Linked DNA regions of Homo sapiens. The protein of the gene in region 2 purifies or fractionates together with the protein of the main gene of each other region. This does not show direct contact. Each region holds a gene or a part of one and is shown on either strand. Other genes may lie near its edges. The genes, in order: ANKRD17 and LHX9.

Evidence for each region.
Region 1: the proteins of LHX9 (region 2) and ANKRD17 purify together in Homo sapiens (affinity purification with mass spectrometry, with the first as the bait; one large-scale study listed by BioGRID). This does not show direct contact.

The regions. Positions count from the first base shown.
Region 1 is NC_000004.12:73,077,299-73,081,125, forward strand, and holds part of ANKRD17 (ankyrin repeat domain-containing protein 17), read right to left. Parts: intron 1,593-3,827; coding exon 1,344-1,592; intron 236-1,343; coding exon 57-235; intron 1-56.
Region 2 is NC_000001.11:197,923,822-197,927,648, forward strand, and holds part of LHX9 (LIM/homeobox protein Lhx9), read left to right. Parts: intron 1-3,769; coding exon 3,770-3,827. UniProt on the Homo sapiens protein: Involved in gonadal development.

The DNA.
Region 1 (3,827 bases), on a different chromosome or scaffold from region 2:
AAACATTTTCTCAGAAAATCCTCCCTTAAATAACTAGTACAAAATCAGGACTTTACCCCAACTTTAGGAAAGTCCATGTAGCCTGCAGGAACATGCTGATGGAATGTACCAGAAGGAGTTACAATTCCTGTACTATCTCGCTCCATTGCTTGATGTTGTGAAAATACTCCTGGGTCAGACATCGGTCTGTGGATCATAGGATTTCCCATCCCAGGGTTACACCAGTCTACTTTGTCTGAGGGCAAACAAAGAGGCAAAACAAAAATAGATAATATTTAAAATCAAAATCAAATATTTTGTTTTTCTAATATTTTCCACATTGAACCGTAAATTATTTCAATATAATGACCTACTTTTATATATTTACAGCAATATTTCCATGGTTTGTAAGTAGTGACATAATAGCTTAATGAAATAATCTAAAAACTTGGTGTTATAAAACAAAAGAAAAAAACCTAAGTACAACCTAAAGGGACTGAAAGGAAATATTATTATGTCCTTAATATGATGAAAGGAAGAAAAGAACATGCTTGCATTAGATATTTTCTGAAAGCAGTAATAAATACATGTAATGAGAAAGGTCACATGGGGACAGAGCTCATAAAGAAGTGATTAAATATTCACATAACAAAAAAAATAGGAATACAGATCTTTTAGAAATGACTACGAGGCTGGGCGTGGTGGCTCATGCCTGTAATGCCAGCACTTTGGGAGGCTGAGGTGGGTGAGTCACTTGAAGTCAGGAGTTTGATACCAGCCTGATCAACATGGTGAAACCCTGTCTCTACTAAAAATACAGGCGGGGCACAGTGGCTCACGCCTGTAATCCCAGCACTTTGGGAGACCGAGGCGGGCGGATCACAAGGTCAGGAGATCGTGACCATCCTGGCTAACACGGTGAAACCCCGTCTCTACTAAAAATACAAAAATTAGCCGGGCGTGGTGGCGGGCGCCTGTAGTCTCAGCTACTTGGGAGGATGAGGCAGGAGAATGGCATGAACCCGGGAGGCGGAGCTTGCAGTGAGCAGAGATTGTGCCGCTGCAGTCCGGCCTGGGTTACAGAGCGAGACTCCGTCTCAAAAAAAAAAAATTAGCTGGGCATGGTGGCGCATGCCTGTAATCCCAGCTACTTGGGAGGCTGTGGCAGGAGAATCGCTTGAACCGGGGAGGTGGAGGTTGCAGTGAACCAAGATCACCCCATTGCACTCCAGCCTGAGCAACAAGTGAAACTCCATCTCAAAAAAAGAAAAAAAAAAAGGAAATGACTATTAAAGTTAAATACTGTTTACATTATAGTTAAATGCATTAAGTTAATTTCTAGAGAGCAGGACAGAATATCCTACCTTGATTGCCACCAATCCCTTCAAAGGACCAGATGCCACTATGTCCTACTGATGTAGACAAATTGCTCCCAATAACAGATGGAGCTGACGTTCCAGTTTGCCTGATACGTGCAGAACGTTCAGTCCCAATAGGGACTGGAACTTTCCTGTCCTGAGACACATTGCTGGGCTTTTCTGACCCTAACGGTACTGATGATGGGGCAGGAGATGGTGCACGAACTCCCGAGGATACTGACTGTGCAGAAGAATCTAGAGAAGAGATATTTTGAAATAAAATACAGGTCATCTATAGAACATGTAATTTTATAAAACCAAATCTTAAAACCAGGAGATGTTTTAAATATATATTCTCAGAAAAACAAAGTGTAAAAATAATACTTAAAAATGATGCATATTAAAATTTGGCTAAAGTTCCATGACTTCAAGGTAGAATATGATGTCAATGCTGCAAAATGTTCAACTACAAAGGTAATAAACCATTAAATTAAATAATATTCAAATGAATTAACCCTTGACATTAAGTAAAATGTAGCAAGCAATAAGACATTTAAATTAAAAAACAAACCAACAACAACAGAATGGAGATGGGTAAGAATCACTGCCTGTAGTGGCAATCTCCAAACTGTATTCCCTGGGAATACTTGCTCTTTGTGTTATGATGAAAAAGAGATTCAGCTATCTAATAAATTTGGAAAACCTAGCCTAGGAAAAAGAAATACGTTTCTTTGTTATTTATTCATTTTTTATTTATTTTATTTATGTATTTTTGGAGACAGAGTCTTGCTCCATTGTCCAGGCTAGAGTGCAGAGGCTCGATCATAACTCACTGCAGCCTCAAACTCTTGGGCTCAAGCGATCCTCCCACCCCAACCTCCTGAACAGCTGGGACTACTGGGATGAGCCATCATGTCCAGTTTAAAAAAAAAAAGTTTCTTCAAATTAGAACTGAAGTTTATAGAACATTATATATACTGATAAAATACCAATAAGAGGATCATTGCCTAAGTCTGTTTTATTTTATCTTGTGAGTACTTCACAGAACATGCTTTTGGTAATGAGAATCTTTTTTACTTATGCAAACAAGGTGGATTTCTTGATTTGAGACTATTCATTAGTGATTCAATCTCTATACATTATTGAGAAAAAACAAAAATAACCAAAATTATATTTTATGTGAAAAGCTTAAATATTGGCCGGGCGCGGTGGCACACACCTGTAATCACAGCACTTTGGGAGGCCAAGGCGGGCGGATCATGGGATCAGGAGTTCGAGGGGCCAATATGGTGATACCCTGTCTCTACTAAAAATACAAAAATTAGCCGGGCGTGGTGGCACGCGCCTGTAGTCCCAGCTACTCAGGAGGCTGAGGCAGACGAATCACTTGAACCCGGGAGGCGGAGGATGCAGTGAGCCGAGATCGTGTCACTGCACTCCAGCCTGGGTGACAGAGCAAGATGACTCCATCCCCCCTCCCCCTCCCAAAAAAGCTTAAATATTAAAGCACATTTAAACTAAAATGGTATAAATAATAAAGGAGTCTGAAGCTTAAAAATCAAAACTGTTACCTGCAGATTCAACAGAACTGCAGTTGAATTCCAAATAAGCCTATTATATAAGATAAAAGAGAAAGACCTATAGCATTCCTGTTGACAATAAAAGCACTCCAGAAAAAAAGCTATAACCTAAAATTCAAAAATGAACGAAAAGAAAATGATATGAAGGAACAGCATAATTCAGAATTAGTAAAACGGAAACAATATGACAAAACTCAGGAAAGTGTTAGAAGTAAAAGAATATTTTAGCTAAAGACCAAATAAAACCAAATTCTGCAATTATACATGCAGTAGAAAACAGACAAAAACTACAAGGAATACACAGACATGTAAATGTAAACACAAAGATAAATAACAAAAGCTTGTTTTTTAAAAACCTACATATTGAAAGGCCACACCTAAACCTCTAGGAAAAATCAACCCAGAACAACTAACATCAAGACATAGTCAGGGCAGGCAGGCAGGAAGGAAAGAAGGATAAACAAATGAATCCTGCTTTCCCCTAGGTTCATCCCTGGGAGCCTACCTTAACCTCTGTGTTCACTCTGGTTTCCCTTTTATTTCCTGTATCCTTCTAGAACCAAAGTAGAGCAAAATAACAACAACCTTCCACATTGTTTTGTTTTTTATGAGACGGTCTCACTATGATGCCCACACTGAAGTACAGTGACTATTCACAGGCACAATCACAGTGCACTGCAGCCTCAAACTCCTGGCCTCAAGCCATCCTCCCACCTCAGCCTCCTACACATTCTATTTTAATAAACAGAATTACTAGGCTTGCCCGCTGAGCTGCGCCATTTAAGAAGTTTACTCTCTGCACAGATTCTGCCACCCCTCTAGTCATAGTTTTTATCAGATGACCCTGTTTTCTGCTCCCTCTCTGCACAACTATTGGATTAAGGATAGGCACCCATCCAAGTTTTATTTT
Region 2 (3,827 bases):
TGCAGATTAATGCTGCTACAAGTTGTTGTGGAGAAGGTCGCTTTTGTCTTGGTCCCAAAGGAGGGAAAAATTGCTTAGGCCCCCTTAGCCCGAAGAGTTTGTACCTCGCACCACTACAAACTGGATGCCTCTTAGTTAACATCTACTCCATCCTTTCTGGACTTTTCCCAGAGATACTATTCAATAGTATATATATTTTAAAGATCAGGTTAAAATTATCTATGGGAATTGGTTTGAAGATGCCTGACCAGAAATCAGGCCATCATTTAAAACAGTGCTTGCGAATCTGATGCCACTTTGTTCCAAAACTAGGGAAAGAAACCCTTCAGCAAATTAAACACGCGTTAAAATGTAAAAAAATAAAATAAATCCAGTTTTAACTCGTTATTTTAGCCTTCTTTGGATTTTGTCTTGCTATCTTTCATTAAATGTAAACATTAAATGTAAACAAGTCTCATAAAGGGTAAGGTTGATACTAAACTAAGTATAATTTACACAATATGTTTTCAAAATGTGCAGAAAACATGTTTGTGATTCAAAGAATCTCAGAGAAGATGTGAAACTTGGCAAAGGCCAGCTAGTGCTTGATAGGGCAAATGCCTTTTAATGAGAATGTCCCTAGTTTTGTTTATACCTCTGTGCAAATTAATCAGGCAAATATTTTAGAAAGAGACATGGAAAGTTTACCTGAAATGCTAGCTTGAAATAAAGCCCTCTAGGGATGAGAAGAAGATTTAGTTTAGGATAGGAAGCTCTTATTTGTGTAATTTAAACATTAATTGAGAGATTAAACTTTTGCCACTTCTCAAAATATCCTTTCCTTAAGCCCTTTCTTCCTATCCAAACTTTTAAGGCTCCTGGTGGTTAAATTAGCCTGGCACTGACCCCTAGTGGTCTTCCAGGGATCACTTCATTCTCAGAAGGTTACATACCTTCACAGCGACACTCACTTTAGGATGGGTGCCCATCGCATAAGTGACTGGAAATAAAATACTTAGATCTTCTCATTAACTTATAATACTGGATGTGAACTGACAGGTAGATATTTAAGACAGTTTTAAGAGTTATCATTTCATCTCATAATTCGGGGAGTGGGGGAATCCCCTACAGCTTTAGCAATAGGCCTTGGAGAAACAGTCATTTGCAAGTTTATATAATGCATGTGTAGTTAAACATAAATAATATCAGATAATGCACTGTTACTCTGTAGAAGAAATAGCTTTCTCTATTAAGTTGCATAATATGAGATAACAGTCACAGGAAAATCATATATAGTAATATCTGTTTAATAAAGACCCAACGAGCTATCTCCTTACATATTGGATTGTGTATTTTATGTGGAAACAGGGCCTATAACTGTATTTTACACACTAAAAGGCTCTGCTGAGTTTTTAATCAGCAATAATGGATATAGAATGCGTTTTAAGGGAAGCCATTTCATTAAATCTTACTACAATTATTTTTCATAAATTTCATTTTAAGAACTAATGATTATATAGTCAGGTTGGGAATCATATTCATTTCTATATATTACCTTGGTGTGGAGTGGGGGAAAGATGGCCAAGGGCATTATTTAAACACCAAGTCCTCTGTCCCAAGTGTGAAATTCAATTTGATGTATTGTTCAGGAAAGGTTACATGTTACATATGATAGGAAAGAAATCTGAGTTGAAGAACCCTCCGATGACTAACATGTGCCCCTTTGACTATTTTTTGTGGGTATATTTATAATCTGGTTATGAAATATGGCTGAGTTTACTGGAGATAAGTATAGTTTTATAGTAGGTCATAGAGATGCTGTTTCATCCATTTGAGGATATGAAAGTGCAATTCTGTAGAATATTTGAACTTGACATATCCCCACTGGGCCAAAATAGGATAAAATGTAATGCATACTCTTTCTGTTATCTCTGGACATATGGTAGCCTTTCTGGTGGAGTTTAGGAAGCCTATGTTTTACATTCGAATGTATATATCTGACTTGGATTCCACTTCAAGTTGATTTAATTTCGCATTAATACTCACTTGTAATTTACTGATGAACAAAGGGCCCAACATCTTGATTGAATGCTTCTTGAGCTCCTACCCCTGTGTTTGACTCAGGGAATCAATTCAAAGTTGAATATGGTATAGTCAGTTCCCTCAATGAACTCACCTGTTCTTTTGCCAAGTGTGTCCTCCTACTTATGCGTCTTATGGAAATACAAACAAAGGAGACATTTGTTTGTGTCTAGTCTTTTTACATTAGGAAGAATTTCTTGTTAAGTGAGTTTTATATGTGGCTGCCTTCTTGGGTGATGACTACAAAACTTCTGTATTTCTGTAAATATGCTGATTTGCTGAATATTTTTTAAAAAGTAATTCTAAACAGAGCCTAGCAGGCAGATAACATTGTATTAAGCAGAACATTTTATTAAGCAGATTGGAAGAGCTCACATTAAGGGATGCCTCCCTTTTTTAAGATTCAGGTTTCTTTCTCCCTGGAATGACATGATCAGGTTGGTTTTAGATTTTCTATTATAAAGCAGTACAAGGCAGGATGATCAGATCTAAATTTATATAACTATCTGAAGGAAGAATTTAAAGAAAAAAAATTACCATGCTCTTTAATTTGTGAAGTTGGCTGAAGTTGGTTGTGTAAATATTTCACAAAATGTTTTCATTTTACAATTGTATTTCCTATGCAGAGCCAGTAGATTCTTGGAAATGACCCTTTAAAAGTGTAGCTTTACATCCTGGGGATAATGACTTTCTGGCTGGTTTCAAAGACTGGGTTGTTTTGCCCTTGGTGCTAAGAAAGTCTTTGTAAGGGAAGAGAAAATGCCGCCCTCTCTCTGCCAGGCCAGCCAGGGGCACAGCTCACATCCCACTCACACACATCTGGAGCAAAAGGGACTAAGATCTGAGCCTAGAAATAAGCACCATCAGTATCTCTCAACTGTGAGCTGTGGGGAGCGCTTCAGGCGTGAACCGTGTGAAGGGAAGTCTGGGCTCATTCTCTTTCAGAAATATTTATTAAAATCACTCCAGGGGAAAAATATTTTCTTTCTGGTATAGCCCTGTGTTAACCAGTCATAGCTAAAAGCTGAAACAAATAATATTCTTATGTTTACATAAGAAATTCACAAATTTTGAATTTCTAACTTCTCCTCCTTTTTCAGCCTTTTCTAACTTTTTCCTGACTGACGGAGCTCTAGGAATATGAGAAAAGGCTAACCCTTAGAATTGACCTAGATGCTTCCTTAGTTGGTGGGCTCTCAGAAACTTTCAGACTTGAGGGAGTAGTAATACTTGTTTCTCTACGTCTCATGACAAAAAGCAATACCTTCAGACAGTGTGTCTCATTCCAGAAATATAGACAAAAGGTAGAGTCTTAAAACACTGTGAGTGTGGGCAGTGGGGAGCTGGTACAAATAACTATATTAGAAAAGGGTTTCTTCTTCTCACTCTCGTAGGTCTCTCTCACTCCCACCTTACTACTTAGGGTTTGTTCATATTCTCAAATTCTTCTAGCAACCATTAAACAAAAGAGAGGATTTAACCAATATTTTTCTATTGCATAAACTTTGGTTGTGTCTACATTAACAGAAGAGTTCAGCTTACTTTAGCAATTATCTTCTTTCTTTTTGTCTAGATACTACTCATAATTGGGTTGACAACCTTTTTCACTGCTGCTTTATTACCATAGCAGTGTCATACAGCCTGCCATCATGTCAGCTAATGCAAGAATTTCCACTGAGCAGTTGTTTGTTCACTGTTACTGCAACAGGTTGTAATGAGAATGAGGCAGACCACTTGGACCGGGACCAGCAGCCTTATCCACCCTC